4 separate regions of the Homo sapiens genome follow, and regions 2, 3 and 4 are each linked to region 1. Evidence: fine-mapped expression QTL. A gene starts in region 1. Each other region holds a variant in brackets. All regions are shown on one strand. Distances are between the middles of the regions.

Region 1 (8,100 bases):
AACCCCATCTCTACTAAAAAAAAAAAAAAAAAAAAAAAAAAATTAGCTGGGTATGGTGGCAGGTGCCTGTAGTACCAGCTACTCAGGAGGCTGAGGCAGGAGAATGGCGTGAGCCCAGGAGGCGGAGCTTGCAGTGAGCCGACATGGCACCACTGCACTCCAGCCTGGGCGACAGAGCAAGACTCCATCTCAAAAACAAAAACAATAACAAAACAAAAAAAAACCCATCTCTACTAAAAATACAAAAATTAGCCAGATGTGGTGGCACACACCTGTAATCCCAGCTACTTGGGAGGCTGAGGCACGAGAATTGCTTGAACCTGGGAGGTTGCAGTGAGCAGACACTGCACCACTGCACTCCAGCCTGGGCAACAGAGAGAGACTCCACCTCAAAAAAGAGAGAATTTGGCACTTGGCAGGGTTTGTAAAATGAGAAGGAACCTAAGGGGCCAGTCAAGACGCAAGACTCTCTGGGAAGCAAGTTTATGCGCCTACTCATCTTATGTTTCCATAATCTCTATTGTGTAGCCGACTTTCAGGGACTGAGAGGCAGTAATGTAAAAAGCAAACTGCTGCTTTCCTAATAGCTCCTCTACTGAAAGCCAGGTTGGTTCTGCACTAAAGGGTTGAGTTGGCTCAAAATTCTACATTGGCCCTGAGAGAGGGGTGATCCAACCAAAATAGAATTGATCCTCATAATGATAGAAGTGGATATTTTTCCTTTTTTTTTTTTTTTTTTTAACCAGAATTCAGTAATCAGAGGTAGAACTAGAACCCTAGCCCTGGCAACCCAAATCTAGCCTTGGGCTGTGAAAGTTGAGAGGCCCTGGAAGCACACCTGGCTCCAGTTTTCCTTATCTGTAAATGAGGGGATTGAACTGAATGAACTCCAAGGGCCTTACAATTCCCATAGGAGTCCTCTATTTTGATAGAAGGCCCCTCTCACCTGTAGTAGAAATGCACAGGGCTGAGGTGGCTGACTGTCGGCATATAGGAATAGTAGAAGGAGCCATAGAGGAAGACAGACACCCAGAGCAAAAGGAGGATGGTGCAGAAGAGCACCCCAAACTGCAGCAGCAGCCTGCGGGCACGGCCTGCCAAGACTTGGCCCACCTCCTGGGCCCACAGTAAGGCAGGTACTGGAGGGTCGTTGACCATGGCCGGGAGAGCAGGGTGTCTGGCCCCAGGTTCAGGCCTTGCGTTCCTAGCTGCTCTGCCACCTGGACGCCACCCCTGGCCATGGGATGCAGCAGCTGGTGGTTCCTGGAAAGAGAGGGTGAGGGAAAAGAGTGACTCCTTTCCCCAGGGAGGTGGGGACAAAACAGCTTACTGGACTGGCTTTGAGGAACGAGAGATAGCAGGATAGCAAAGTCATTGTTTCATATATATGGCCTTTCTCCAAATGATTGTGCCACTCTGCCAATTACCCCTTCCCTTTCCTCCACTGTGTTCCCTCCCGCCCAGTGCTAAATCTCCTCAGTGGAATTCCTTCTCCAGTCATTTGATGCTGGGACAAACCACCTTGATTCTCATTCACAGCTATATAACAAAGAATAAGCACCTTACGATTCTTAGAAAGAGCTTTACACACACGGTGATACTGAATCCACACTGCTAGGCAGCTGCACGGAGAGAATGTGCGACTTGCCTAAGGTCGCACGGCCTGACTCGAAACCAGTAGCCTTAGAGTAGCCACAATTGCTTCCCGAGTTTCTCCTCTCCGCCTCGAGCAGAGCTCGCTCACCGACACGGCTACACCCCACGCCCGGCGGAGCGCCCTGCAGCCAACCGCCGCTTCCCGCCAGTCCCCTCCAGCTCGGGGGTGGGCAAAGCGCCCGGAGCCCCTACCTAATCGTGCAACCATGGAAACCAGCCCGCCGGCTGCCACAGGGCTGCCGACTCACCAGCCTCGCGCGCTGCCAGGGCAACCGTGAGACGGGACTTCCGGCTCCCGGGGAAGTCCCGCCCCTCTCCGCCGGCCGCTTTTGTAGCCGTGGGAGGCGGGGCTTCAGCCCAGGGCGGGGTCCAGCACGGCGGGGCGGGGCGGGACGGGGCGGAGCCTTCCCGAGCTGCGAGGTCGCTGTCTCCTTGCGCTCGCCACTGGCTCTCTCTGCGGCAGGTTTCCCTCCGGTTACCGTGACCAAAGGGGAAAGACGCCTGCCTCCCTGCAGGCCCCAAGATGTGCCCCAGGGGATGCGCTGACTGCAGCCTCCGCTCGGCTCTCCCTTGAGACTGCAATCACAGCCCTCCGTGCACACCTTCACCACAGGCCATTTCACCCGCGAAGCGGCCGAGTGAGGCGGTCATCCAGCTGGCGCTGATTTTTATCGCCCACAGCTCCTAGGACCTGTAGGCATCTAAGGCGGGGGCATTCGCCTAGAGCATGTTGCAGTTTGCGGCAACCTGGGCCTCTTGCGTTGTTGCGCAGGCAGATTAGTGCCCTGTTCCCAGCGTGGTAGCATTGTGGACCTCCTCTGACCCTAACTGGATACACTCTCCCTCAGAGTCCCCACAGCACATTATCTAGACTAGCTTTTGGCAGTCTTCTATTTTGTAGACGTCTAATCACCCCAGATAAAGTCCTTCAGAGGCAAGGCCAGTGTTGTGTACATCTTTGCACACTGCTGCGGGCGTGGGAAGTAATCTATTCAAAATGAATGAAATTCTTAAAACCAATCCATCCCCCCGCCCCCTTCACGCCAGCCCACCTATTTCCAGTATATTTCTGCTGACTGTCCCCACAAGGGCCCCTACCTCCTCTTTGTCCGGTCCTTTGATCTGGTCTCCGCACACCTCTTTTTCCCCAGCTTCCTCCTTTTGGTCTACCTTTTCTGTAGACATCTTCCTGACGAGCCTCTGTTGACTCTGGATCTTCCACTGAGTCACTTGTGGCTAAAACGTGAAGTGGCGATCCAGACGCTGATACCTGTGGCGCATCACATTTTCCTGGATATGGAAAATGGAGGGTCCCTGGGAGAGAAACGAAGATTCAGGTGCTAAGTGCTGTGTCAGAGTAGAGGGAGGAAAGGAGGAGGGGGGCGACTGCCCAGCTGATGTCAGATTTTCAAATGAGCAGGGTCCCCCGCAGCCAGTACAGACTCCACTGCAGGGGCCGTCATAGGCCCAGACCACGCCATTTGAGAGGGGGAGTCGGCCTTGGCCTCAGCTCTGTTGGGGAGGTCTCTAGCCCAGAGTCAGGATGCCTGCAATGGGGGAGGGGCAGGCAGTGAACTAGCGACAGTGGGGGTGTGCGCAGGGATGCAGGCAGCTAGGCTCCCCCACTGGCCAGGCAGTTGGTATGCTCCAGGATCTGAGCAGCTCCTTCTAGCATCCTTCATCCTTCAGGTACCAGCCATCCAGACAGTGCTTGAGCTGCAGAAACTGAGACCAGACCTCTGGCCTGGCCCTCCCCAGGGGCCTCCTTTCGTATAGTCACTGCTTCTGCATCAGATACTTTCAGCTGCAACTCCCTACTGGGTGGGGCACCCATTTCAGGCAGAAGGTTTTGGTACCCTCCACTGACCCTACACCCAGGGCTGCTACTGCCGCTTGTGGCTTCAGGTAAGTAATGGCCTGTTTTTCTCCTGTTGGGGCTCACTGGAGCAGACAGGGGTGATGTGCCCTCCTCATCAGGGTTGGTTGAGGTCTTCAGAGCTGGGAACACACATGGTTTGAAGGGCTGAAAAGCCTTAAATCATTTGTGTAAGGTTTAATGATCTGTGGCCCAGGCCATGAGGGAGTTTGGGGAGCACCTCATCCCACCCTATTTTTTTCCATGAGGAATACAGGGATGAGACAGTCCACTGGAGGAGGAGGAGGAGGATAGGAGGGGAACAAAATATTGGGGTATGACCACAGCCTTGTAAAGGTTGGTGTGGAGTGAGCATGGAGGGGGGCCTCCAGCTGAGACTGTGCTCTGAGAGGTCCCTCTTTTTTCCAGGATGAAAGGTGAGACCCCGGTGAACAGCACTATGAGTATTGGGCAAGCACGCAAGATGGTGGAACAGCTTAAGATTGAAGCCAGCTTGTGTCGGATAAAGGTAGGTGGGACCCTGGCTGGCTCCCATTAGTTGGCCAGGCTGTGCTGTGCTGCAGGTTCCCAAAGCTCAAGATAAGAGATGCGTTCTTTCCTTCACTCCCTGAGGTCAGGGGAGGAGTCTGGGGCTCTGTAGAGAGAGCTGTCCCCAGGCCTCTGGGGGGGATGAGGGAGAAGACAAGTCGTAAGGAGCCCTGGAGATGGCAAAAGAGAACCCATTTGGGGAGGGAGGCTGCAGTCCCCTTCAGAGGTCCTGGCTAACAATACCCTTCCTGGCTGTGTCCCAGGTGTCCAAGGCAGCAGCAGACCTGATGACTTACTGTGATGCCCACGCCTGTGAGGATCCCCTCATCACCCCTGTGCCCACTTCGGAGAACCCCTTCCGGGAGAAGAAGTTCTTCTGTGCTCTCCTCTGAGCTCCCCTGTCCCTTCTCACAACTCCTCCCTTTTCCCTCTCCTGGGCCCTTCCTTAGGTCAGTAATTGTTGTGAGCCCCTTAGGCTCCTTGCATCCCATCCCTAACCCTTGCCTGACCATGTGAGGTTATCTGAAGCACAAGGCCCACCCTCACCTATCTGTCGACCCCATTTCCTACCACCTTTGTGGCCGACCCCAAGCACCCCAGAGATATGAGGCACCCTTTGCTCCACCCACAGCAGGGCCCCGTCAGACTCTGCCAGCGCGTCCTGCCCGCTTCCCTCGGTGACCTGCTCAGACAATGGAGAGGGATGGGCCAGGTTCTTGCTCTCAGTCTCACCTGGAGCTACTGGGAGGGTAAAGCCATTTGAAGAATAAAGTCATCCAGAGCCTCAGGACAGCTCCTGTGTTAGAATTCTTGGGGGGAGAGGATCATCAAGCAATAGATCTGCCATACCCAGGGAAAAGGGCCAATCAATGCAGGCTAGACATCGTCAAGGATCGGAGATCAGAGGGGTCGGGGGATGGCGGGCGCGAGAGAGCGTCCACAGTGTAAGAATTAAGTACAAAAGACGCTCAAGAGGCTGCGAAGAGCAAACACACACACACAAACGTGCAACGAAGCCAAGTTAAAAGGTAAACAGGCCGAAGAGGGGGGATTTAGGGGAGGGTGCGGGAGTGCAGTCGTACAGCAGAGGAACTCTTAGGAGGGTAGGGGCGGAGCTTGGCTTCAGTTACCGCGACTGGAGCCGATTTTATACCTAAGATGGCTGCGCCCACAGCCACTCCCATTCCAAGATGGCCGTACCAACATGGCAGCCCCCACGTCACGGAGTTTACCGTACAGGGCTTCTCTTAAAATGGCGGCCCCCAGGCAACCGGCGTTCTCAATATGGTCCCTTCCGCCCTCTTCTGGTCTCAAAATGGCTGCCCCTGCCCTAACCAAGCCGGGGCCCGCGCCCTGCAACCCCGAAATCTGGATTTCGGTGTCCTCCCGATTGAGTCGAAGGCACACGGGCGGCCATAACGAAGAATCACTAAACAAGGGGACCCCAGGAAGTACAGCGTGGCCGACGCTGGTCGCGTGGATCTTGCGAGGGAATCTAGGTTTCTACATTTTGCCAAGAAAGGAGAGGCTCCCTTTGGAGCGGAAATATTAGCGGCAGGGGGTTAACCCCCGACCCTGTCCGTCTCGGTGCACCGCTCCTCAGTTGCTTCCTGGTCTTCCCAGGAGCTGGATAAGCCTGAAGTTGCTCAGTTTGGGTTTCCTAGTAGAACTGGGGCTTGTTTTTGCTTTCATTTTCCCCTCAGGCCGATTCAGCCACAGCAGCCAGAAAGCAGTGGCCGCACCCCTAATGTGCCTTGCAAAAGTCCAGCATGCTGTCTGGGCAGGGACCAAACTTAAGGCTTAACATGTCATGGTCATCTCCAGGACTCAAACATGGCGGAGGTTTACGAACACCAGAATGCCTCCTAGAATCTTTTCCTTCCAAGGGTGCACAGAGGCGAGATGGGACCAGGGACAAGACAAAGAACGTAACAATCCCAGTACGTGTGCTCCTGCTAGAGGTCCCCTAAACTCAGGGACGCATCCTCCCCAGGAAAAGCCTAGGCTGGCTCCTGTTTTGTGCCTGGATATACTTCGGGAAGGGAGGCTGCTTTGAAATAGTAGGGACAGCTCATTACCTCCAGCTTCCAGGTATCTTTGCACAGAAGACAGCAAAGTGGATAAAGGAAACCAAAGGAAGAAAGGTTGTTATCACCAGCAACTGAACTTAGCCTCCTAAGGATATCTTCATGAATTCCAGGGACACCCAGTGAACTTGGGTCACCTTAAGGTGTCCCAAGCAACTTTTTACTGTTGATGGAACTTCTGAGCTCTAAGAAGTCCTGGAGATCTTCTAATTAATTCCCTCATCCTAGAGATGAAGAAACGGGAGAAGTTTGCCCTCCTGGAGTGGGACCCTACCCCCATTCTGTTGCGGAGGAGCCTCAGTTCCTTCTTGGCACGGTGAAAATTCCAGGAAGGATCAATCAGGTCAGGTCCGTTTTAATCCCTGTATCCTGATAATGGCACATATCAGGCACCCAAATACCCAATGAATAGATTGTACTGTACATGCTTAAATGGCAAATGTGGCATGGCAGGGACCAAGCACCTTGCCTCCCTCACCCCCACTGTATCACGGTGTTGGGCAAGTTCCAGGGGAGTAAGTGAAATTTTCCACAACAGCTCAGACATGGTTAAATAAAAAAAAAAAAAATTAGAGTGTTTAATAAATGTAACCTTGATTTTTAAGAAAGCCTCTTTTTGGCCGGCCGGGCGTGGTGGCTCATGCCTGTAATCCCAGCACTTTGGGAGGCCGAGGCGGGCGGATCATCTGAGGTCAGGAGTTCGAGACCAGCCTGGCCAACCCGGTGAAAACTGTCTCTACTAAAAATACAAAAATTAGCCGGTGTGGTGGCGGGTACCTGTAATCCCAGCTACTTGGGAGGCTGAGGTAGGAGAATCACTTGAACCCGGGAGGCAGAGGTTGCGGTGAGCCGAGATTGTGCCACTGCACTCCAGCCTGGGCAACAAGAGCGAAACTCCGTCTCAAAACAAAACGAAACAAAACAAAGCGCCTCTCTTCAATTTTTCTGCACACTCAATGTTCCTACCCATCAGATTATAACTGCGTGGCTACAGCGCTAGGTGGGAAAATGGGGTTTAAGCAGTAACTAGAGACCAGGCATGAGCTATGATTAACCACTTTAAAAAATGATTAATTAGCTCTAACAGCAACTTAAATGTCCTAAAGAATAGATGGCTACCAAAATTAAGGGTGGCCTTCAGGGTACAAAACTGTAAACCCGGGTATCTGAATCCGTGTCACATACAGAGGGTAGGAATTAGAGCAGTATCTACATCAATACTACTACTCCTTCAGAACACTGGATGTCATGAGCCTGTGGTATCTCAGCTTTAAGACCCTGACCATTTATTAGAAACTGCCGTTAGGATCATTTCAGTGCTAATAATGCAATGGTGGCTGGGAGCGGAGGCTCACACCTGTAATCCCAGCACTTTGGGAGGCTGAGGCAGGCAGATCACGAGGTCAGGAGTTCAAGACCAGCCTGGCCAATATGGTGAAACCCTGTCTCTACTAGGAAAAAAAAAAAAAAAAAATTAGCTGGGCCTGGTGGCACACATGTGTAGTCCCAGCTACTCGGGAGGCTGAAGCAGAAAAATCGCTCGAACCCAGGAGGCGGAAGTTGCAGTGAGCCGAGAGCGTGCCACTGCACTCCAGCCTGGGTAACAGAGCGAGGCTCTGTCAAAAAAAAAAAATAAAAATAAAAATAAAAAATAAAAAAGCAATGGCGCTGTTGTAAATTTAATTTACCGTCTCGTTCTCCAGATTCACTGGAAAATAACCCCCATCAAACTTCTGTTGAATGAGTGGGCTTTCCCCCTAGCAGTAATTATTCATGAATATACTTATTTGGCTCCACAATGTACATTTAACTTCAAGCATCCAACTAGTTTTTGCATAGGCCAAATACAGAGGTCGTGAGTTATAATTTATTTTCCTATACTTCAATGGCTCGACTCTTGGCCTAAGCAAGCACTAAATAGACTAATAACTACCCACCCATGTCAACTGACTG
Region 2 (8,100 bases), 170 kb before region 1:
TTAATCTCACTTTCAACCTTTGGCATTGTGACATCATATTCTCCCTTTACGTTAGGGCCTTTCAGATGTAAGTCCACATCAGGCATGGAGATCTTGGGGACTTTGATGTTCATCTCAGGCATCTTAAACTTGGGCCCTTTCAATTTCCCTTCTGGTTCCTCAATGCTCACATCAGGAGCAGTAACATCTATCTTGGGCCCGGAAATGTCCACATCAGCCTTGGGCAGGTTCACATCCACTTCTGGGCCCTCTGCTTTGAACCCTGGCACACTGAATTTGGGCATTTTCATCTTGGGCATCTTCAAGTGCCAGTCTGGGCCATGAACATCCACATCTGGGGCATCAATGTCCACTTTTGGGCCTTTGAGTTCTCCTTCCAGCTTTGGTACAGTTACATCATACTCTCCCTTCACCTTTGTACCTTTCACGTGCAAATCTACATCAGGCATGGAGATCTTTGGTGTCTTGACACTCATATCAGGCAGCTTAACATCGGGGCCTTTAAGTTTTCCCCCCAGACCCTCCAAGTTGACATCTGGGGCTTCCACATTGACCTTGGGCCCTGAAATACTGATATCTCCTTTGGGTAGAGTCATATGAACATCTGGACCTTCCCCTTTGGCTCCTGGAGTGCTGAACGTGGGCATTTTCATCTTGGGCATTTTCAGGTTCCATTCTGGGCCATGCGCTTCGACATCTGGGGCACTGACATCCACTTTGGGGCCTCTGACATCAACTTCAGGGACTTTGACTTTCCCTTCTACTCTGGGGAGTGTGACATCTACACCCCCTTTCACTTTAGGTGCGGCCACATTTAAGTCTACTTCTGACATAGAGATCCTACAGGTTCCGGTTTTCCCGGAAGGACTGCCAAGCCTAGGGCCTGTCAAGGTTCCCTCTAGGTTTGGTGTCTCTATGTCCACTCTGGAGCCTTTAAGTGCCACTTGAGGGCCTTTAACATCACCTTGCACCCCAGGAGCAGAAACCTTAATATCTCCTTTCAGTTTAGGAGACCCAAGGCTCAGATCCACATCCTGCATGGAGATTTTAGGTTTCTGAATAATCATTTCAGGAGTCTTCACTTTAGTACCTTTCATCTTTCCTTCCAGCCCACCAGTAGCAATCTCAGGCAGGCTGACATCCCCAGAGACCCCAGGAACAGTCACTTCACCTGTAGGCAGTGTCACATCAATCCCAGTTTCCTCTCCCTTTGCACCTGATACAGAGAACTTGGGGACTTTCATCTTGGGCACATTCAGTTTGCTCCCAGGCCCCTGAACATCAATGTCAGGGGCCTGAACTTCCACACTGGGGCCAGTGATGCTACCCCCAATTTGGGGAGCAGAGGCATCCACCCCAATGTGCCCCTGTGGCTTGGCACCTTTCAGGCCTAGGTCACCCTCAAGTGATGGCCCAGTGATTTGGGGGCCCTTCAGCTTCCCCTCAAGGCCCTCAATATTGGCAGAGGGCACACTGACTTCCAGCTGAGGGGCTTGGATAGTCAAGCCTGGCTTGCCGCCCTTGTGCCCCACAGAGACTTCAGGTGCAGAAACCCTCAGCCCTGCCTTTGGTGTCTGGCCCTCACGCCCTGTTGAGACACCAAATTTCGGCACTTTCATGGTGGGAAATTTAATTTTGCCATGATCACCACTCTCCAGAGATGGGCCCTGTACCTCTACTGCCCTACCCCCAAGAGAAGATGAAATGTCCACTGCTGGAACTTGGACCCCTCCTCTGCCACCCAAGTCCAAGCCCTTTGCATTGACATTGACACCTGAGCCTCCCACCTTTATCCCAGGCATGGTGACCTGGAGCTTCGAGTGGCCAGCACCTTGGAGCTCTGGTCCTGAAGCAGAAATGGCCCCTGCTCGGATATCCACAGCAGAGCCTGTCGGAGAGGCTGCCCCCGAGCCCGAGGGCAGTCTGATCACGGTCTTCCCAGACTGGGTCTCCACATCCACATTGGAGATTTCAGTCAGTTCATGTCTTGGAATCTTGATCTTGAATTCAGGGCTACTGATGTCTATGTCCTTGGCTCCTTCCCGGCCAGTCACATCCACAGTGTAGGCCGTGACCCTTCTGGTCACTGTGATGGTACGGCTCTGGGTCTCCCCGAGGTCTCCTTCCACTCCATCTTCCGACTTCAGCCGTGGCTTGATCTTCGTGGTGTAGATGCGCTGGTACTCCTCATCATCCCCGCTCTGCAGAAAGACACGCCGGGCAGAGGTTGCAGCAGAGTCTGCCTGAGTTAGCAGATGCCCGGCCACAGCCCAGCCGACAACACGTTGCCTGTTTCCCAGAGAAGCTGGGACCAAAACAGAGGTCCATGGAGCCTCCTGGGGCACAGCACAGGGGAGTGAAGAAAGGGGCTGACAGCCACATCACAGGAGGAAATCAGAAATTCTCTGGAGGTCATACCGCTAAGCAAAAACCGTGGGGAGGGAGTGGGAGGTATACTCTTGGACTGGGAGGATTTCCATTCAGTTAGAGATTCAAATCAGCCTGTGCCAGGGACACCTCCCAAGAGACCAGGCCCTTCAGCTCCCAACTCTCAAGCCACTGGCTTGTTTGTTTAATCAGGAGGGGAATCTTCTCAGAGGCCCTTGGACCCTGAAAGCACTCGTTGAGCCTAAGAGACTGGTTGTGCTTGGGTTAACAGTCTCACTTTGAGGACCCATTATTTGTTAAATAAACAAGCCATCAGAAGGACCAATGTCCCCACAGGCACTTTGCTGCCCAGCGTCTGACCCACAGAATGTATCAGGCCTCTGCAGAGAGAAAAATGGTGTCTGTGAGGTGGAGCTGGGCACCTGTGAAGTCATTTCAAAGATTCTTGCAAAGCAGCTGACCTTCCTCCTAGCATCTAGGGCCGGGCTGCACAAGTCAGTTCCCATACTGTGGCCGCTCTGAAGAGACTGATTGAAGACATTTAGAGGGAGCACAGCCACATGTCACACGAAAGCGGAAAGAAACAGGGTGGCCAAGGGCTCAAGAGAGTGAAGACAGGTGAGAGGAGAAGAAGGAGCAAAAAGAGAGGGTCCGGAGGCACATGGAAGGCTCAGGAGTGGGGTCAGCAGGCCGGCATGGCCGGGGGAGCTCAGGGCACAGATGGGCCGGCGAGGTACTCACCAGAACCACTTCAGAGCTGCAGGAGCTGAAGACTTCACGGGTCCAGGTCTGGCCAGGCTCGGGAGAGCGGTCCCCCTTGCGGTGCAGCTTCAGGCCCACCGTGTGGTGCCCCATGGTGTTCAGCAGCTGGGTCACCTCACCCGACTGCAGGTTGTCAAAGTAGATGGTGGCACCCACAATCTGGTCCCCTGAGCAGGGAAGAGCAGGAAGCAGGTAAGGCCCAAAGAGCCTCAGGGAAACCGCACACAGCCACCACACACTGGGCACTGAACTGACTTGAACTCATGACCACCCTGCAAGGTGGGCATGGTAATACCCATTGTACAGACACGGAAACTGAGGCTTAGAAAGGCCAATTTGTGGGGGCCAGGTGCAGTGGCTCACACCTGTAATCTCAGCACTTTGGGAGACCGAGGCAGGTGGATCGCCTGAGGTCAGGAGTTCGAGACCAGCCTGACCAACATAGAAAAACCCCGTCTCTACTAAAAATGCAAAATTAGTCTGGTGTGGTGGTGCATGCCTGTAATCCCAGCTACCCTGGAAGCTGAGGCATAAGAATCGCTTGAACCCAGGAGGCGGAGGTTGCAGTGAGCTGAGATAGCGCCATTGCACTCCAGCCTGGGCAACAAGAACAAAACTCCATCTAAAAAAAAAAAAAAAGGCCAACTCATTTGCCCAAATCTGCAGAGCTAGTGGGTGGTGGAGTCAGATCTGAGGACCAGGTGTCCACTACCCCACACAGCTGCCTCCCCTGAGGACCACAAGTGACAGACACAGAGTGGCCAAGGGAGGGCAGGGCTTGGGTACCAACCACCCTGATGCCACTGGGAATGGGCCCTCGACAGCCACTCACCCACTTCTGCCTGCTCCCTGCCCTTCCCTCCAACACCCCCACCGACCCCCCAACCACCAGCACCCAGTCCACACCCTGGGGTGACTCACCCTCCTTGACCACCCCAGTGCGGGCCGCAGGGGAGTTCTGCGTCACCTCCTGCACAAAGACGCCGTCGTCCCTCTGGGCGATGGTCAGCCCGTGGGAGCCACTACCCTGCCAGTTGGGCAGCAGCAGCTCCCGGGTTGTCTCCTCCTTCTCCATCTGGAATGAGGTGAGGAAATGGAACTGGGGTCAGTGGGGGTGGGAGGACATGAGGGCATGGGAAAGCTAGCAATCTCTGGCGCTGTGAACTCCAGGGAGTGGGGCCCTCAGCAATGCACCTGCCCCTGCAGCTGGCTCACCTGCCAGGTGAGGTGTTGGGGGTGGGGTAATTCGTCTCACGTCCTTCCACTGTGGAAGTTCTCCCAAGGCACAGCAAAGAAGATGGAAAGGAGACAGCAGAGGCAACTGGA[C/T]CCGGAGGTAGCTGGCCCTTCATCCCTGTCCCCCACGGCCCCAGCCTCCCATCCACACAGGGCCCACCCTCCCCACATCCCGTCACCTCCGCCTCTCTCTGCCTCTCCCACCTACTGACCTTTGCAGGATTCCGCTCAGGAGCGAATGCCTTGCCAGGAGCCCGCCCCTCCTTCCTCTCTTCCCCTCAGTCTCTCTCGTCGGGAATCTCGGTCACAACCTAGGGAAAAGTTCACGATGATGCTCGCACTCCGGTCGGCAGTCTGCTTGCTCCAAGTCTCTACCCAAGGGATAGCCAGGTCCTCTGCTACCCAGGCCAGCTCAGAACCCGACCCCCACCACCGCCGTCAATTCCACTCGTCCATGACTCTCCAGCCCGGCATAGCAGAAAGGGGCTTCAGAGGAGCCAGACTTGCAGTCAGATCCTGGCTCTGCCTCCTTCTAGCTGTGGGACCCTGGCCAAGACACTTCAGTTTTCTGAACCTCCATTTCCTCATCTGTGAAAATGGAGGCAATAAAGGAGAAAAAATAGAGCACTGGCCGGCAGGAGCCGCTTCACATGCACACTCTTGCCACATTCTTTTTATTTATGTATTTTATTTATTTTATTTATTTTTTTTTTTTTGAGACAGAGTCTCGTTCTGTTGCCCAGGCTGGAGTGCAATAGCGGATCTCGGCTCGCTGCAAGCTCCACCTCCCGGGTTCACGCCAGTCTCCTGCCTCAGCCTCCCGAGTAGCTGGGACTACAGGCGCCCGCCACCATGCACCACACCCGGCTAATTTTTTGTATTTTTAGTAGAGATGGGGTTTCACTGTGTTAGCCAGGATGATCTCGATCTCCTGACCGCATGATCCGCCCGCCTCGGCCTCCCAAAGTGCTGGGATTACAGGCGTGAGCCACCGCACCTGGCCTCTTTTTATTTTTTTGAGACAGGGTCTGGCTCTGTCACACAGGCTGGAGTGCAGGGGCGCAATCACGACTCACTGCAGCCTCGACCTCCTGGGCTCAAGTGATCCTCCTGCCTCACCCACCCAAGTAGCTCGGACCACAGCCACGTGCCTCCACAACTGGCTAATTTTTGTATTTTTGGAGAGATGGGGTTTTGCCATGTTGCCCAGGCTGGTCCGGAACTCCTGGGCTCAAACAATCCCAAAGTGCTGGGACTATAAGCAGGAGCCACCACGCCCAGCATCTACCCACATTCTCAACCACAGCTTCAAGAGGGAGATGTTACTGTGCCAATTTCACAGACAGAGACTGAGTCTCTGAGAGAACAGCTTACCCGGGGTACACATGAGAGCACAACTATGCTGGGCTTGGACCCGAGTCTGTAACTCCTTTTTTTTTTTTTTGAGACGGAATCTCACTTTGTAGCCCAGGCTGGTGTGCAATGGCACGATCTCAGCTCACTGCAACCTCCCCCTCCCAGGTTCAAGCAATTCTCCTGCCTCAGCCTCCCGAGTAGCTGGGATTACAGGCGCCCGCCACCATGCCCGGCTAATTTTTTGTATTTTTAGTAGAGATGGGGTTTCACCATCTTAGCCAGGCTTGTCTTGAACTCCTGACCCTGTGATCCACCCGCCTTGGCCTCCCAAAGTGCTGGGATTACGGGCGTGACCACCGCACCCGGCCGACCGAGTCTGTAAGTCTTTTGCCTACTCCACCCCAGGTCTGCTGCTTGTAACAGGTGGGAGCCTCCTCAGAGTCTGCCTCCAAGCAGGAATGTCAGTGTTCCACCTCCCTCAGAGACAGAGACTTGGGCCACCCAGTCTCACCCAGTACCCAGGACCAGGGGGGTGCCTCACCAGCTGGCAGCTCTGGGAGCCCTGCCACAGGCAGCTGCCTGAACAAAGGAGGCCCCGGCCCCACCAGGCACCGCCCAAGCCCCAGAGGTTAGAGCCCAGCTGAGCCCACCTTGGCCCACAGTGAGTTCAGGCCTCCCGGCTGCCACACCAGGCCCTGAGCCAGGCCCTTATAGGTGCAAGCATTTAGTAATAAATTCGCCCTCCAGCCACAAGGTGAGCTGTCATCTGCAGGTGCCCTAGAAAGACACCAGGCAGGACTCTGCATAGGGCCACGGACTACAGCCACAGCACAAAATGGCGGCAGCAGCCACCAATTGAAATGGTGTGGGGGACACTATAAGTCATGGGGAACCTAAGCCAAAGCCCCGCCTACAGCCGTTTACATCCGGAAAGTATCAACAGTCAATCAATGCATGTATACCGGCTGCCTCCATATGCCCAACACTATACTTTGCACTACAGACGGAACCAGCCAGGGATGGACACAGCTGGGCCCAGCACCTAATTACACGCTGCGTTAGACGGTGACCTCACATCACTCACGCACCCATGTGCCAGACAGGGAGATTTAAGACTCAGTTCCTGTCACAGATACATATGATGAGCAAAGTGCACTAGCTGTGACCGATTTTGCCGCAGAATATTCCAGAAGGCTTGGGAGCCTTCTAGGGGAAATGAAATATACATGGGGTCTTGAAGGTGCTACAGGTGACCTCTGAGGATGAGACTATGTCTCTTGGGAATTCGTGGGCACTTAGCAGTTCCTATCTCAGGCAGATCACAACACGGATGAAAGAGAAACACAGACCCCAGCCCCCGACAGCCATCCTCCTGTTTGACAACGCGGTGTGGACAATGTGTCTCCTTGTCAACACAGGTGCTGGCTACAAGGTGAGCAAAGACTCTGAGCCTCTGGGCTCAGGTGCAAACTGGCGAAAACACCTCCTCCCTTCCGGCTGCAGAGAAGGCTGCGACAGGAAATCACTCTGACCCTTCCCAGCAAGAAACAGCAAAGCTGGGGCTTAAATGGCACATTCTCTCCCACTGTCCAGTGCTCAGGAGCCAGCCCTGCAGAAAAGCAGCCAGGCAGAGGCAGGGAAGGAAAACAGATTCCAGACTTCATCTCTCAGACAGAACTGAAGCCACTCCTTCAGATCGCCCAGACACCCCTGTCCTCCTCCTGGAGCAGGGCCCCTTTGCTCACCCCAGCATCCTGGTGCTGTGCCAGCAGCCAGCGAGGGGGAAAGAGCTAGCTGGGCCAGCTCACCCTCGCCCACACCTCGGCCCCACCCTCCCGCCCCAGTGAGTCACTGCAGCTGGCTGCAACAGCTCCAGACCTGCAAAGGGTTGAGCCTAAAACCCCAAGGACAAAGTGCCTCCTGGGCCAGACCCCCAGGTGCCAGAGGAACCAGGGCTGCCCTGCAGACAGGCAGTTGGCTTCCCTGCCAGGGCCTCAGGCAGAGTCCCAGGGCAGAAGTCCCTTTTGAGGCCCAGGACAGATGCAACCTACGTGGTTCCTGAGGAGGGGAGAAACCATCCTAAGTAGACACCGATCCAATAGCCCGTGAGGACGGGAGCCATTGGACCCGAAGCTGCAGGTTGGCCCTGGCAGGGCACCCAGTGGCTTCCCGGCCAGGTGGGGCTGCCAACCACCCTGCCTGCTCTGGCTGTGGCCCTGCTGTCCTGGCACAGCCTGGAAGGACTCCCCTCTCATCTGACCTGGGCCATTCAGTTCCGCGGAAGGGCATGGAAATACTGAAGGGAATACTGAAGGAGGGGCGTGGGATACTGTGTAGCCAGGTTTCCCATTCTCTGCATTT
Region 3 (8,100 bases), 51 kb after region 1:
AGAATCTCTTGAACCCAGGAGGCAGAGGTTGCAGTGAGCCAAGATAGCGCCACTGCACTCCAGCCTGGGAGACAGAGCAAAACTCCATCTAAAACAAACAAACAAAAAAACATTTTAAGATGCCCTACTGCTCCACTCCTCCAAGCTAAGTTTCCGGGGCTCCCGGCTCAGTGATGGCATGAAAGAACTAGCAGCTACAGGGATGATGTCGTGGTGTCCCTAGCCTGGACTCTACAGTCAATTTACAGTGAGAGGATAGAGTGTTCTTTGTTTCCAGAGCGTGCTGAGCAGGTGCTGGTAGGAAGGGTAAGAATGGGGTCAGGATCATAAAATGTCCCAGGACAGGAGAGAAGAAGCAAAAACCGTGTCTACTGAAGAAATCTTTGAGAGTCTCTACACACCCAGAGGAAAAGGCTATAAGTTGGGAGTCACTGATAACTGCCCCGTCTGACCCAGGTAGTGTTACTAGAGGAGTAAACTCGGTGCCCTAATCCTCACTCCTTCACCCACCACCCTAAGCATCTCTACTTTATTCTGCAGTCAGGCCCTCCGATCAGACCTAACCAGAATTAGGGAGAGTTCATCTATACAACAAACTTGTGCTACATACATTCAGGATATGTTGGCCTTAGCTTGAGATCATGCCTCTTCAAGACACTGTGTTCATTCTTACAAGCCATACAATATTTACTGTATAGGAATTAAAACTAAGAAATGGGCCGGGCACAGTGGCTCATGCCTGTAATCCCAGCACTTTGGGAGTCCGAGGCAGGTGGATCACCTGAGGTCGAGAGTTCGAGACCAGCCTGACCAACATGGAGAAACCCTGTCTCTATTAAAAGTACAAAAATTAGCAGGGTGTGGTGGCGCATGTCTGTAATCTCAGCTACTTGGGAGGCTGAGACGGGAGAATCACTTGAACTTGGGGGGCGGAGGTTGTAGTGAGCCGAGATCGTGCCGTTGCACTCCAGCCTGGGCAACAAGAGTGAAATTCCATCTCAAAAAAAAAAAGAATAAATAAATAATAATAATAAAAATATAAAAATTAGCTTGGCACCTATAATCCCAGCTACTTGGGAGGCTGAGGCAGGAGAATCCATCTCAAAAAATATATATATGTTTTTATATATACATATATGTAAATATAAATATATAAATTATATACATATAAAAATATATGTATGTATATGTTGTAAATAGAGAAGGGGGACTCTGTGTTGCCCAGGCTGGTCTTGAACTCCTGGGCTCACGTGATCCTCCCAGCTTGGCCTCCCAAAATGCTGAGATTACAGGTGTCAGCCACCAAGCCTGACCTTTTTAATTTTTAATTTAATTTAATTTTCATTTATTTTTCTTTTTTTGCGTCTTGCTCTGTTGCCCAGGCTGGAGTGCGGTGGGGTGATCTTGTCTCATTGCAGTTCTGACCCCTCAGGTGATCCACCCACTTTGGCCTCCCAAAGTGTTGTGATTACAGGCATGAGCCACCTTGCCTGGCCTCATATATATTTATATTTGTTTGTTTTGTTTGTTTTGAGACAGTGTGTCGCTCTGTCGCCCAGGCTGGAGTGCAGTGGCACGATCTTGGCTCACTGGAAGCTCCGCCTCCCGGGTTCACGCCATTCTCCTGCCTCAGCCTCCTGAGTAGCTGGGACTACAGGCGCCGGCCACCACGCCCAGCTAATTTTTTGTATTATTAGTAGAGACGGGGTTTCACTGTGTTAGCCAGGATGGTCTCGATCTCCTGACCTCATGATCCACCCGCCTCTGCCTCCCAAAGTGCTGGGATTACAGGCATGCGCCACCACACCCGGCTAATTTTGTATTTCTAGTAGAGACAAGGTTTCTCCATGTTGGTCAGGCTGGTCTCGAACTCCCAACCTCGGGTGATCCGCCCGTCTCGGCCTCCCAAAGTGTTGGGATTACAGGCGTCAGCCACCGCCCCCGGCATATATATATATATATATATATATATATATATATATATATATATATATGTATTTTTTTAAAATAGAGATGGAAAAATAACTATTTACCAAAATCAATAAATATGTCGTGAGAATAATGGCATTGTTTTACAGGGGGGTTGGGGGGAGACACTGTTTTTCTCTCCTCTCACACCACCACAACAATCAACAAAGAAGGCTACTGTGTGACCAAATGTGTTGGTTTTTTCCCCAGTCCACAAGCAAGCAGTTCCAGCTGGGTGTCCTCTTGTTTAATGCCAACACTGTCTACCTGGAGATAACCTCAGATCTCAAATGTTTAGGGTGCAGATCTCAAGACCGCCCTCCCCACCGGCCCCCCGGTACTAGTTTCTTTTCTCTCCTTTTTTCTTTTATTTCTTTTCTTTTCCTTCCTTTTCTTTTCCTTTCTCCTTCCTTCCTTCCTTCCTTCCTTCCTTCCTTCCTTCCTTCCTTTCTTTCCTTTCTTTCTATTTCTTTCTTTGTCTCTTTATTTGTCTCTCTCTGTCTCTCTCTTTCTTTTCTCTCTCTCTTTTCCCCTTTTTCTTTTCTTCTTTCTCTCTCTTGTCTCTCTCTTTCCCCTGCCTCCCTCCCTCCCTCCCTTCCTTTTTTTTTTTTTTTAAATCAAATTATTGTTTACCAGACATGGCCCCTGACTTCTGATGCTAGTCAAAAGCCCCAGGCTGTTTTACCTATGCCTCTGACTGACCAGCTGTAAATCTAGGCCCCCACAACTCTACTTGGGCTTGGTTAACTTGCTAGGGTGGCTCATAGAAATCAGGGAAACACCTACTTACCTTTACTGGTTTATTATAGAGGCTATTTGAAAGGATGCAGATGAAGAGGTGCCTAGGGTGAGGTATGGGGGAAGGGATGTGGAGCTTCCGAGCCCTCTTCCGGTGTGCCACCTTCCAGGAACCTCCAGGTGTTCAGCTATGTGGAATCTCTGAACCCAGTCCTTTTGGATTTTTGTGGATGCTTCATTATGCAAGCATGACTGCTGAAACGATTGGCCATTGGTGATCAACTCAACAGTTCAGCACCCCCTCCACTCCCCAGAAGTTGGGGGTGGGCTGAAAACCCCAACCTTCCAATCATGCCCTGCTCTTTATGGTGACCAGCCCCCATCCGGAAGCTACCTAGGGCCTGCCAGCCATCAGTTAACATTAGCATACCAAAAAAATCACTTTAGAGATTTAGGAGTTGTATGGCAGAAAATAGGGTCAAAGAAACGTATATTTCACAATATCACACTGTTTCGATAGGAGACAGCTCGATTTTCACATCTGCTTCTATTAGCTATTAGGATATATTGTTTTGATTGAAATACATGAAGAAAATTTGGTCTCACACAGACATGTAACTAGAAGAGCACTTCACCAATCCCCTGAAAGGTTCTTTTGGGGACCACAACTTCAGAATTGCTGTTCTGAGCTTTCAGGCTCTACGTGCACACACTTTGAGGAGCAGACACAACAATCCTTGTCATTGCTTTGGTGTCTTTTTTATCCAAAGTTTCAGTCTCAGGCAGTAGAGTTTACAGTAGTGAAGAATGCGACTTTCCCAGGTGTGAGGGCTCACACTTGTTATCCCAACACTTTGGGAGACAAAAGCAAGAGGATCACTTGAGGCCAGAAGTTCAAGACTAGCCTGGTCAACAGAGTAAGACCCACATCTCTGCAAAAAATAAAAAATTACCCGCGCATGGTGACCCATACCTGTAGCTGGGGAATGCAATGAGCACTCCAGCCTGGCAGCCTGGGTGACAGAATGAGACCCTTTCTCAAGAAAAAAAAAAGGTGGGGCCGGGCGCAGTGGCTCAGGCCTGTAATCCCAGCATTTTGGGAGGCTGAGGCAGATGGATTACCTAAGGTCAGAAGTTCGAGACCAGCCTGGCCAACATGGTGAAACCTGGTCTCTACTAAAAATACAAAAAAAAAAAAAATTAGCTGGGCGTGGTGGTGGGCGCCTGTAATCCCAGCTACTTGGGAGGCTGAGGCAGGAGAATCACTTGAATCTGGGAGGCGGAGGTTGCAGCGAGCCGAGATTGCACCACTAAGTTCCAGCCTAGGCGACAGAGTGAGACTCCAACTCAAAAAAAAAAAGAAAGAAAGAAAAAAGAAAAAAAAAAGGAACACAAGCTTTGGAGCAGGTCAGCTATTCATACCCAAATACCTCCCCTTAATCTTTTTCTGGCTTATGTATAAGGTAGGAATAATAATAGTATCAGTGTCAACCTAAAATAATCCGACGGGTCAGAACCTAATTTAGAGTTTTTTCAAGTGCGAAGTATGAGAATGGAACACCTGGAACCACCAACTCCAGAAGAATGGAGTCAGTGTTGTGAAGTAAGAAAGTTAAGATTTCATTTATATAGGCAAGCACACATGACTTTTTAGCAGGATTACATTTTTCACAGAAGATTGGTACATAGTTATAGCAATTTGGTTGGCTATAGACAATGTTTCTTTTTGGGAAGTATACATGTAACTTTTTTTTTCCAATTTTTTTTTATTTGGAGTTTCGCACTGTTGCCTGGGCTGGAGTGCAGTGTCAAGATCTTGCCTAACTGCAACCTCCGCCTCCCGGGTTCAAGACATTCTTCTGCCTCAGCCTCTGGAGTAGCTGGGATTACAGGCACCTGCCACCACACACGGCTAATTTTTTGTATTTTTAGTAGAGATGGGTTTTCACTATTTTGGCCAGGCTGGTCTTGAACTTCTGATCTCGTGATTTGCATGTAACTTTTTTTTTTTTTTTTTTTTTTTTTTTTTTTTTTTTTGAGAGGGAGTCAGCCGGGCGCGGTGGCTCACGCCTGTAATCCCAGCACTTTGGGAGGCCGAGGTGGGCGGATCACCTGAGGTCGGGAGTTCGAGACCAGCCTGACCAACATGGAGAAACCCCGTCTCTATTAAAAAAAAAAAAAGAGAGAGGGAGTCTTGCTCTGCATCCCAGGCTGAAGTGCAGTGGAGCGATCTCGGCTCTTTGCAATCTCAGCTTCCCGGGTTCAAGCAATTGTCCTGCCCCAGCCTCCCCAGTAGCCGAGTAGCCGGGATTACAGGCATGAGCCACC[A/C]GTGCCCGGCGCATGTAACATTTTTTAACAGAGGATGAAATAGTCATGGATTTCCTACACTTCAGCCTGGGCGACACAGCAAGACTCCGTCTCAAAAAAAAAAAAAAAAAAAAAAAGAGTTAATCTATAATCTGAGAACAGAAGTTGTAAACTATATGTGACTCGCAGTCATATCTCTCTCGAGGCTTAAAGTGTTTTTTGGGCTTCCAATAGCTCTTAAATTTTTTTTTTTTTTTGAGACTCCGTCTTGCTTTGTCGCCAGGCTGGAGTGCAGTGGCGCGATCTCAACTCACTGCACCCTCCGCCTCCCGGGTTCAAGCGATTCTCCTGCCTCAGCCTCCTGAGTAGCTGGGACTACAGACGCCTGCCACCACGCCCGGCCAATTTTTTGTATTTTTAGTAGAGACGGGGTTTCGCCATGTTAGCCAGGATGGTCTCAATCTCCTGACCTCATGATCTGCCCGCCTCGGCCTCTCAAAGTGCTGGTATTACAGGCGTAAACCACAGCGCCCGGCCTAAATTTCATTATTTTCTGTAGCTTCTTGGCCTTTTGGCTAAGGCTCGTAAACATTTTTTTTTTATTTCTACACCAATTTCTGTAGATTATTATGAGAATTAAGGGAGAGAATTATATCAAGCGCTTAGCACAGTGTCTGGCATCTAGGAAGAAAGTAGTAAGTGATAGCATTTATTTATTTATTTATTTTATTTATTGAGATGGAGTTTCGCTCTTGTTGCCCAGGCATCTAGGAAGAAAGCAGTAAGTGGTAGCATTTATCAATCTATCTATCTATCTATCTATCTATCTATTATCTATCTATCTATCTATCTATCTATCTATCTATCTATCTATCTATCTATCTGTTGAGATGGAGTTTCGCTCTTGTTGCCCAGGCTGGAGTTCAGTGGCAAGATCTCGGGCCGCCTCCCAGGTTCAAGCAATTCAGATAGTTGCCGACCGGGCGCGGTGGCTCACTCCTGTAATCCCAACACTTTGGGAGGCCGAGGTGGGTGGATCACCTGAGGTTGGGAGTTTGAGACCAGCCTGACCAACATGGAGAAACCCCATCTCTACTAAAAATACAAAATTAGTCAGGTGTGGTGGCACATGCCTTTAATCCCAGCTACTCGGGAGGATGAGGCAGGAGAATCGCTTGAACCCGGGAGGCGGAGGTTGCAGTGAGCCGAGATCGCGCCACTGCACTCCAGCCTGGGCAACAGAGGGAGACTCCGCCTCAAAAAAAAAAGTTGTCGTTTGATGGCTGGGGGGCGGGGGTGAGGGGCGGGGCTTAGTGGTTCTCGCCCACGACGGCGAGGCCCAATCAGACCCGCGGAGCTGGTGGAGTTCCGCCCTCGCGGAGGAGGTGGTGTTCCGCCCTCCTAGTCGCAGCAAGCGCGGAACTGGGGTTGCGGCGTCTAAGTGTTTCCGGTGGATTCCCAGGGACTGTCGGAGGTGTGGACTCTGCCTGCCTACCTGGTCTGGGAAGATGTTCTACCATGTGAGCAGGGCTCAGGGTGGCGGCAAGGGCTGGGTGGAAAGGAAGAGCAAGGCCAGGCGCCGGCGCGAGACTCCCCTTGTCGTCCAATAACCTGCCAGCGCCTGGCCTGGTCGCCATCCCACTTTTCTCCGCAGATCTCCCTAGAGCACGAAATCCTGCTGCACCCGCGCTACTTCGGCCCCAACTTGCTCAACACGGTGAAGCAGAAGCTCTTCACCGAGGTGGAGGGGACCTGCACAGGGAAGTGAGTGTCGAGCTCACCGCACCGCCAGATCGTTCGATGCGCACACGGGGCGCTATACCTGCAACCCCTCCCCAACTCCTACTCGTCCTGCCACCCACTCTGGGGACCCCTCTCCTCTCTCAGGCAGCCAGTTGCTTCCTGCTTTGGGTTCCCAGGGCGCCCTCTGCAATGCTGGACAATAAGACTTCCTTCTCTCAGCTGAGATGGGTCATTCATTGACTCCTCAAACATTTTAAAAACCCTTGGTGTGTGCCAGGACCCGTGTTGGGCTCAGAACAAGGTAGAATGGGAACAAGATAGAATGAGGACAGCCCCTGTGGAGCTCACAGTGTAATCATTGTTCCTGTGTCTGCTCTCCCTCTGTCATTCTGCTGGTTTTCTCTTATCCCCTGTGCCCAGGGACCACACACCATGGGCCTCTATATATCTTCTGAATGAATGACCAGAAAAAGCAGATCGAGAGTTTGGGGGAGGAAGGAAGTAGCCTGGGATTTGACCATCTCTGGGCTTTGCACAGAGGGGCCTCTCTGATATTAATGAGCTGGGACCCAGCTCAGGGCAGTGGAGTACTTGGGCCTCCAGCATCAGAAAAACCTGCAGGAACATGCAGATTCCTGAGCCTCCTTATTCCCTACAGAATCAAGACTGTCTGGGGCAGACCTGAGAATCTGCATTTTAAGAAGATGATTCTCAGGCATCCCGAAGATTGAGATCTGTTGCCTCAAGGACTCCAGCCTTCTTGGACATTTATTGTGAAATTACCAGAACAGCATTTGGTCTTACACATACTGATCTCTGTTCTGTCTTCTTTTGGTCATTAAGCTCTCTGGGAGCAGAGGTGCTATCTACTTGTCCTTTTGCTCTCCCCGACCCTACCCCCAAGAGCTCAGCGACTTTTATTGCAGATGTCTTTAGAGGCTCTTGGACACACAGTGTCTTCCTGTTTCTCATCCTCCTTGCAGGTATGGCTTTGTAATTGCTGTCACCACCATTGACAATATTGGTGCTGGTGTGATCCAGCCAGGCCGAGGCTTTGTCCTTTATCCAGTTAAGTACAAGGCCATTGTTTTCCGGCCATTTAAAGGGGAGGTCGTGGATGCTGTTGTCACTCAGGTCAACAAGGTGAGACCATACATAGGGGAGGCAGTGGGGTAGTCTCTCGGAAGATCTGGGTTGGGTTCTGGCTCCACTTCATAACTCTGTGCCTTTGGCTAAGTCACTTCACTTTTTTTTTTTTTTTTTTTTTTTGAGAGAGTTTTGCTCTGTTGCCCAGGCTGGAGTGCAGTGGTGCGATCTTGGCCACTGCCACCTCTGCCTCCTAGG
Region 4 (8,100 bases), 160 kb before region 1:
ACCTCCACCACCAGAGCAGAATGCCACTGCCATCCTCTGCCTCCAAGCCCGATGACAACGCAGGCAGAGGTGACACATCCAGGCACGCCACAAGGGGAAGACCTTCATTCACAACCAGTGGGATACTCTCTCACAGGCAATGACACACATCTCACTCAGAGACAAGCTGTGACATGGTGGTCACAAGGACCTAAAGCCACAGTGGGACGACACCTGCAATGCTATCAGTGACCTACCTAAGACTGCCAGCGACAGCTCAGCCACAGCCCTGGTGGGAACTGAGGCCAGCAGGGAGGAAAAGGGGCTTCATTCCTTCGGAATCCTCTTGTGGCCCACCCACGTGCCCCCCACACTCCCTCGGGCACACCCAGGAACGCTGGAAATTGCTCGTGCTCAGGAAGCCTTGGGAGTCCCACCGGATGGCCTGAGCCCAGGGAAATGCCAGCCTGGATGAATCGATGGGGGACGAAGAGAAGTCAGAAGGCCCTCCATCCCTGCCACTGCCACCGCCCAAGCAGCACATTCTAAATCCTCCCCAGCGGCCATCACCCTTCCTCAAACCTAAGCGTGCACAGCACGGTGCCAGCCCAGCTCCGGGGAGAGAAACTTTGGGGCCTCGGGAATGGTGGGGGAGAGAGCCACACTGTTCCCATAAGGAGTAGGACTAGCTCTCCCGGTCTGTCTCTCTGTCTGTCTCCAGGCAGTTCCCAAGTTCTAAAGAAGGTGGTGACCACACCCCAGAGCCCCACACACCCCTCCGCCCCCACGGCTTTGCCCCAACCCCTCAAACCAGCTCCTCAGGCTCAGGGTGACCGGCTCTGCCAGGACCCACCAGCCAATTCCAAGTCGAGCAAAAGAATCCAGCCTGGCAGCACCGCCACCTTTCCCCAGGACTTCCTGAGGGCTAAGATGACTCCGGGGACCCCCAGCCAACTCCGTACCCTGGGCTGACGCTGGACCTTCTCCCTCAACAGGTCCCTGTGTCCCACCCCTGGCCCTGGACCATGTCTGGCTGCCACAAGTCCTCAGCTCCGAGGGGTTGGCTCCTCAAGGAGTTCCCGGACCAGGACCCCTGAATCGCTGCTGTGGGCCTCCATATCAGCCCGCATGACTTATGTGGCTCCCCATGTGTCCCTGTTCTCTGACCAGTGTCCCTGTGCATAACCTCTTAGGGACAAAGGCTTTAGAGAGGGGCTCAGACACCCTCTAACCCACATTCCCACAGCCCCCAAACCCTGCGACCTCTCCTAGCTCCACTCTTACCCTCCCTAGCTCCTCTCCCACCCTCCCTCACCCCAAAGCTCACAGCTCAGAGCAAAGAGGTGCCCCTAACTTGGGGGCTCCCCTGTCCTCCCCATTCTGCACAGGCCACTATCCACGCGGTGGGGGGTGGGTGACCCCGCTGTCCCTAAGGACTGGAGAAGGAAGCTTCCCCCCATTCAGCTTCTGAAAGGAAGTGAGTGCCACACCCTGCCCCTGGGATTTCCCTCACGGGGAGGGGATGAAAGCGAGATCTCTACCCTGAATTACAGCCAGTATAGGTGCAGGGGCCCTTAAACGCCTTCCCCCACTCTCAGCTTCACTGCTGCAGCCCCTCACTGTATTCCACAAAATCAACCCAACACCTACCATGCACTAGGCTGTGCTGGGACGGGCAAGCAGAGAGCAGGAGCCCTGCAATCCGAGGTTGGATTCTAATGAAGACGGGTTCGAAACCAGTATTTACTGAGCGCCCAGCGCTGTGCTGGAGACACAGAGGTAGATATCTCGGTCCCTTTTCCTCCGGAGACTCCGGAGGTCTAAGGACCTGACTGACTTGGGAGGCTCCCACACTGCCTTTCCACAAATCCCCTCCACAGAGCAGGGCACTCTGCAGCGACCGCACGCTCCCTGGGAGCACCTCACTGCCACGGTCGCCGCGGCGGGAGCCACACCCTGCGAAACCGGCAAGCACACACATCGCACACAACCCTCAGTGGCCTCATTGTGCAGAGGGGCCAGAGCCGTTCCCCACCTTGTTGTGGGGCCTCGGCTACAGCTGAGAACACCCATCTGCCCCCTCCGCACCCCTCCCAGCAAGGGGCACAGCCAGCCCTGTTTGGGCCCCTGGAGTCCCTCATGGTCAGCGCCGCCAAGGGGCTGCGCCCCCACATCCCGGCCTGGGCACTGCTGGGGGGCGACCAGCCCTGCCAGGGACGGCCCAGGCCCTCGCACACTGCACACACACACCCCCTCCCCTTGCATGGGAAAGCCTTACATAACACAGCTCTGCACACACCCTAAGCACGCTGCCTTTCCAACTCTAGGCGAGACCTCGCTTCGGGCCCCCTCTCCTGGCGCGCACCGCTGGAGCGCAGGGTTCCAGCGAGCGCAGCTTAGCCCTCCTCCCACGCCAAGCCCGGCTCCTGCCCCCAACTCCCACACACAGCCCCTTCCTCCTCCCCTTTGCCCCTCACCACTCCTCCCTGAGTTCTGGTTTGAATTAGTCACCGGCTCCAACCACCACATTCCTCAGGCTGCTGGCGCCGGGCCAGGCTCTGGGGCGGGGGCCATCCCGCCCGGACGGGTTTGGGAGTTGGGCGGGGGGAAAGCGCCGCCTCCGGAGGGGAAGGGGCGGTCCCGAGGACTGGGCCGCCGCAGCGCACCCCCCTCCTCGCCCACCTCAGCATAGGAATCTCCCTAATTTTGTCCCCCTCCCCACCCATCCCGCTGGGAGGCGCATTGCAAACTTCCAGGTTCCGCGGCCCGAGAGGAAGGTTTTCTGGAGCGGGGAACGCGGAGAGGCAAGGCTAGGGCGGGGCAGCTGGAGGAGGCTGAGGGGCTGGTGGTACAGAACAGGGTGGGGCCTGGACGACTCGGGACGCGGTTAGGGGCAGAGGTGCAGGGAGCGCGGAAGGACAGCCGAGGGGGCGCACGGTGCGGGGTCGCGGAGGCGCGGAGGCGCTGGGGGCCGCGGTGGCGATCTCGGAAATTTCCCCTCCAGTAAACATGGGATACGAACGGAGCAGCCCCCGAGCCACCGCCCCATGCAGGGAGAGGAGGTGGGACAGAGGCCACCAGGCCCGGAACGGGGCGCCCTGCCTTGCAGTGGAGCCAACAGTCCGCCCTCCGGAGAAATAAAGAGTGGAGCAAAGCACTTCGGAGCGATTTTCCAACTTTAACCAACTTGCGCCCCAACTCCAGAGGCAGAACTCCGCTCCCAGAGAGCGACGCGTCGCCGCCCCGGGTGGCCCCGCTTGCTCCAAACTGCTTGAATCCTCACAGTGACACCCCCAACAACGCGCCCTGCCGGAGCACCGCAACCCACCTCCCCGCGACCCGCCCTTGGTGCCCCGGACCCCGATGGCGCCACGGTGCGCCTGGCGCCCCTACCTGAGGGCTCAGCCCCAGGGCACGGCCATAGCCGGCGCGAGGCCCAAGGCTGCGGTGCTGCGGCTACTGGCGGCGACGAGCCCCGTTCCGGGCGGGTCTGGCAGGGCGGGCGGTGCAGTCCCCGCGGCAGAGCAGCTCCGAGTGGCCGGGCCCCCGTGCGCGGAGGCGGCTCTTGTAACTCCGGCTCG[G/A]GCGGGCGGGTCTGCCCGGAGCTGTGGGGAGAGGGCGGGGCCGGGCGGGGCCGGAGCGGGGCTGGGACTGGCGAGCGGGGCAGACCCTGGAGGGACCCGGGAGTGGGCTGCTGGGGAGGGGGGCCGCTGGGGGACGCGGGGACATTCTTTCCCCCCCTCCCCGCATCCACTGCCCCCTGTCCTGTCCCGGACCTGGACCTGCTCTCCAACATGTGCACTGTGTGGCTTCATTGGCAAGAAACTCCTGCAGGCTCCCTGGGCTCACCCTCACAGCTGGAACTGCGAATCAACTTATTTTGCAGGAAGGGCCTGGGGGCTCTGAAGGTGGCTGGGTGATTCAGCCGCGACCGTCAGCTTGCTCCGGACCTTTGAGTTTTCTCTCAGCTTAGGCAACTACACTTCAGATCCCAGGCCCCAGCCTCCTTGCTTGGTTCCCAAGCTCCGTGCTGCCGCGCCCATTTCTCGCGTTCTCTCTTTCTGGGGGCCCCTCCGTCCATATCCGCACAGAACTGGCTTGGATTTCCACCCCCCAGGAGCCGGGGTCACCAGTGCCTCGCGCACCGCGGTGCTGCGCAGGCCGCGGGCATACGGGGGTGAGGACCCCGGGCGTTGGACAGCGGACCCGACGCCCACCTTCCTCTCCAGACTCCCGCCCCCAGGAGCCAGAGCCCCAGCGCTTCCTCTGCCTCCCATTCCTTCTCTGAGCGCCGCCCCCGCCTCCCCACTTGCGGGACGCTGAGTCTCCTAATTTACAGCGATTTCCCACAGCCACTTCTAACTACATCGAGATTTTATTAAACGTTTAATGATGGGGTGCGGGGGCCTTCTGGCTACACACTCCCCTCCACACTCCCTTTCTCTTCTCCCTCATGAGTCCTTTTATCCTCCCTCCTAGGTGGCCACCCACTGCCCGCTCCAAGCCAGTTTCCCCTCCTTCCCAAATGCTAAGGAAAGAGAGACCCCAGGCTGGGGAACTAAGGAGACCTGGCCAAGGCAGGAGCGCCCTCCTTGCTGCAAGATCATGAGTGGGCTGGAGCTGAGACCAGCTCGGCCCTGTCCTCTGAAATGGCAAACATGTTTACAGGCTAAAAATACCCAGCAGTCAACTCTGCTGCCAGCCCTGGGGGCTGTGTCCAGGTCCAGTTACCGGCACAGAGTACAGGCCGTGGGGGAGGGAAGAGACAGCCAGAGGAACCACAGACATGGGCACTCATATAATGGACACAGAAAGGTGGAGCCGCATGTGCAGACATCCAGACAGGCAGAGACATGTGAAAACACAAAGCGGAGACTTGGGCACCAGCATTTTCTCTTGCTCTCTCTAATACACACACACAGGTGCCCAGATAATGACTCAACCCCATGGCAGAGGCAGCCTCGCCACAACACATCCCAAGCACACAGTCACAGACTCACACTTTCCCAAGAATCACCTGCTCCCCCATTTTGTTCTGCACCCCTTTCCTAGCACCTACCTTATTTAAAGAAAAAACAAATCTAAAACTTTTGAGCTATAGAACACTTAAAAAAAAATTACCAAGGCCAGGCGCGATGCCTCACACCTGTAATTCCAGCACTTTGGGAAGCCAAGGCAGGTGGATCACTTGAGCTCAGGAGTTCGAGACCAGCCTGGCCAACATAGTGAAACCCCGCCTCGACTAAAAATACAAAAATTAGCAGGGCATGGTGGCGCAGCCTGTAATCCCAGCTGCTCGGGAAGCTAAGGCAGGAGAATCCCTTAAACTTGGGAGGCAGAGGTTGCAGTGAGCCAAGATCGTGCCACTGCAGTCCAGCCTGGGTGACAGAGCGAGACTCCATCTCAAAAAAAAAAAAGTACAATAAAACACAGACTTCTCCCTCCTCCCCTATCACAGTCCCTCTTCCCAAAAGTAACCATTGTTAACAGTTTACCAAAGGATTTTTAACTTTATGGAATGAATCATCATCTCGTTCCTTGAAAGAGCGAATGTTCCCAGTGCATATTAAAACAGGAGTTGATTCACACCTAGGTTGGAAACACAGGGTATCTGCAAAAAGGGCTAAGGGGGCGTGGGGGGCTGCTAGAGCAGAAAAGGAAGAAGAGCACGGAAAGGCGTGGACGCTGTGTCTTCGCCTCGACTGGGCTAGATCGGCCCCCCAGGATCCAAACAGCAGAGGCCAGAGTCCCAGGCTCAGAGCCAACTTATCTGCTCCATTGTTTGTTCTGGCCACCCTCTTGGTCAACAGGGAAGAAGGCAGGAGGGAGAGGTTGGTTTTTGAAGCAGCCCCAGAGCAGAGATCACTGACCAGGTACTTCATTCAGGGATATGAATGTCAAGATTACCTGGTCGGGGGGTAGTTCTGAGGACTGGCTCTTGTCCCATTCCAGACTGGAGGGCTAGAGAAGGCTTAACCTCAACCCTACCCTCTAAAAAACCATGATCCTGACCGGGGGCGGTGGCTCACGCTTGTAATCTCAGCACTTTGGGAGGCTGAGCGGGGGCAGATCATGAGGTCAAGAGATCGAGACCATCCTGGCCAACATGGTGAAACCCCGTCTTTCCTAAAAATATAAAAATTAGCACTTTGGGAGGCCGAGGCAGGCGGATCACCTGAGGTCAGGAGTTCAAGACCAGCCTGGGCAACATGATGAAACCCCGTATCTACTCAAAATACAAAAATTAGCCGGGCATGGTGGTGTGCGCCTGTAGTCCCAGCTACTCGGGAGGCTGAGGCAGGAGAATCGCTTGAACCCAGGAGGTGGAGGTTGCAGCAAGCTGAGATCGTGCCACTGCACTCCAGTCTGACAACAGAGCGAGACTCTGTCTAAAAAAAAAAAAAATGATCCTGCAGGCTGGAACAGAGCTGGGGTTTCCTAAGACTGCCACCTCAGCCCAAGGGAGGGGAATATTTTCAAAAGTTTTCAGTGGTGTTAAGTGGAGAAACGCACACTTTTAGAAACTTCTGCCAACTCTTCTCCTTCTGCCCGCTGGTGTAGCCTCCCCCACACCCCCTCCCAAAACTACCTTAATATGATTGTGTCTGATCCTGCAGCAGCTACTTTCGTTGGTTTTTTTTTTGTTTTGTTTTGTTTTGTTTTGTTTTGTTTTTTGAGAGGGAGTCTCGCTCTGTTGCCAAGCCTGGACTGCAGTGGCGTGATCTTGGCTCACTGCAGTCTCCACCTCTGGGTTCAAGTGATTATCCTTCCTCAGTCTCCCAAGTAGCTGGACTACAGTCGTGTGCCACCATGCCTGGCTAATTTTTGTATTTTTTAGTAGAGATGGGGTTTCACCATGTTGGCCAGGGTGGTCTCGAACTCCTGACCTCAGGTGATCCCTGCCCACTTCAGCCTCCCAAAGCGCTGGGATTACAGGTGTGAGCCACTTTGTCAGGAGCTACTTTCATCTGTCAGCTCATTTAATCCTTGCACACCCTGGGAGGGAGGCACTTAGTGAGGAATGGTCTCAGAAAGGGTTCGTGATTTACCTAAAATCACACAACTCACAGAGGCAAGAGTCAAAGCTTCCGCTAGCATTTAAGCCTCATGAGGACAGGGTTCTTTCTTCTCTGCTGTATGCTTTGTGCCTAGATTAACTGATTTTTTGTTTTGTTTTGGTTTTTTGCTTGTTTTTTTTTGAGACAGTCTCACTCTGTCGCCCAGGATGGAGTGCAGTGGAGCATTCATGGCTCACTGCAGCCTCAACCTCTCAAGCTCAAGTGATCCTCCCACCTTAGTCTCCCAAGTAGCTGGGACTACAGACACACACCATCATGCTCAGCTAATTTTTTTTTTTTTTTTTGGTAGAGATAGGGTCTCACTATGTTGCCCAGGCTGGTCTTGAACTCCTGGGCTTGAGCAATCCTCCCACCTCAGCCTCCCAAAGTGCTGGGATTATAGGTGTGAGCCACCGCACCCTGGCCCCTCATGCCTAGAGCACTGACTGACACATAGCAATCACTCAAGAGCATGTTTCAAATGAATGAATGAACTCCAGGTATAACTGGCTCCAAAGCCCTTGCCTTTTCTACAATAGATAGCATCCTGCATCCCAGGCTGTCACAACTTCCTCTGGCTCTCAGCCCCCAGGGAGCAATTCCTCTACTTGTGGGTCTTTCTTGCAGCTACCCAAACATTTATTGTGTGTCCAATATGGGGTTGGGGAACTGTGGTGGTGGTGGAAGCAATAGAGACCTTGGCAAGATGGAATCCCAGCAAAAAGCTCAGTCCAGGCGGAAACGGCTCCGATACCCCTTTACCTTGTCCTTTGAATTCCTTGGAGGTCCTATGCCTCCAGAGAATTGGAGTTATCTTTCCTACCAGGTAATTTACACAGCTACTCCCCCGCCAGCACCCCCCCGACACACTATGTTTTGGGTGTTTTTGTTGTTTTGTTGTTGTGGTGGTGGTGGTGGTGGTTGTTTTGAGATGGAGTCTAGCTCTGTCGCCCAGGCTGGAGTGCAGTGACACGATCTTGGCTCATCTTGGCTCACTGCAACCTCTGCCTCCTGGGTTCAAACGATTCTCCTGCCTCAGCCTCCCAAGTAGCTGGGATTATAGGCA

Alleles and levels. Alleles are on the strand shown, and positions count from the first base shown. SD is a standard deviation of normalised expression in the study named. Not every link is listed here.
For the expression in macrophages of the gene that starts at base 3,070 in region 1, allele C in region 2 goes with a lower level than allele T (large effect, 1.3 SD a copy in Alasoo 2018).

Evidence for each region.
Region 2: its variant is fine-mapped to the expression of BSCL2 in macrophages (Alasoo 2018, PIP 0.95).
Region 3: its variant is fine-mapped to the expression of BSCL2 in whole blood (TOPMed, PIP above 0.99).
Region 4: its variant is fine-mapped to the expression of BSCL2 in whole blood (TOPMed, PIP 0.97).

Annotation. Positions count from the first base shown.
Region 1 is chr11:62,704,355-62,712,454 of GRCh38, forward strand. BSCL2 (BSCL2 lipid droplet biogenesis associated, seipin) reads right to left here and starts at 3,070. Exons shown (of 11, transcript NM_001122955.4): 1 at 2,755-3,070; 2 at 947-1,263. The coding sequence starts at 2,841. GNG3 (G protein subunit gamma 3) reads left to right here and starts at 3,322. Exons shown (of 3, transcript NM_012202.5): 1 at 3,322-3,561; 2 at 3,941-4,040; 3 at 4,324-4,847. The coding sequence starts at 3,942. The coding sequence ends at 4,452. It overlaps HNRNPUL2-BSCL2 (HNRNPUL2-BSCL2 readthrough (NMD candidate)), which reads right to left. Exons shown (of 24, transcript NR_037946.1): 14 at 2,755-2,970; 15 at 947-1,263. RefSeq lists a silencer at 1,774-2,113 and enhancers at 1,781-2,454, 3,774-4,973, 5,104-5,743.
Region 2 is chr11:62,531,874-62,539,973 of GRCh38, forward strand. It overlaps AHNAK (AHNAK nucleoprotein), which reads right to left. Exons shown (of 5, transcript NM_001620.3): 2 at 4,596-4,694; 3 at 4,072-4,225; 4 at 3,130-3,317; 5 at 1-2,201. The coding sequence starts at 4,225. Among named protein-coding and RNA genes, the nearest start is that of AHNAK, 11 kb to the right of the region's middle. RefSeq lists enhancers at 3,451-4,650, 7,229-7,831, 7,832-8,100. The variant C/T (reference allele first, on the strand shown) is at 4,477.
Region 3 is chr11:62,755,128-62,763,227 of GRCh38, forward strand. POLR2G (RNA polymerase II subunit G) reads left to right here and starts at 6,453. Exons shown (of 8, transcript NM_002696.3): 1 at 6,453-6,533; 2 at 6,668-6,777; 3 at 7,740-7,899. The coding sequence starts at 6,522. RefSeq lists enhancers at 1-321, 1,700-2,226, 6,462-6,661. The variant A/C (reference allele first, on the strand shown) is at 5,035.
Region 4 is chr11:62,543,288-62,551,387 of GRCh38, forward strand. AHNAK (AHNAK nucleoprotein) reads right to left here and starts at 3,519. Exons shown (of 5, transcript NM_001620.3): 1 at 3,373-3,519. RefSeq lists enhancers at 2,026-2,536, 2,537-3,047, 3,626-4,156, 7,884-8,100 and silencers at 2,191-2,320, 2,851-2,970, 2,981-3,030, 3,311-3,380, 3,501-3,670. The variant G/A (reference allele first, on the strand shown) is at 3,561.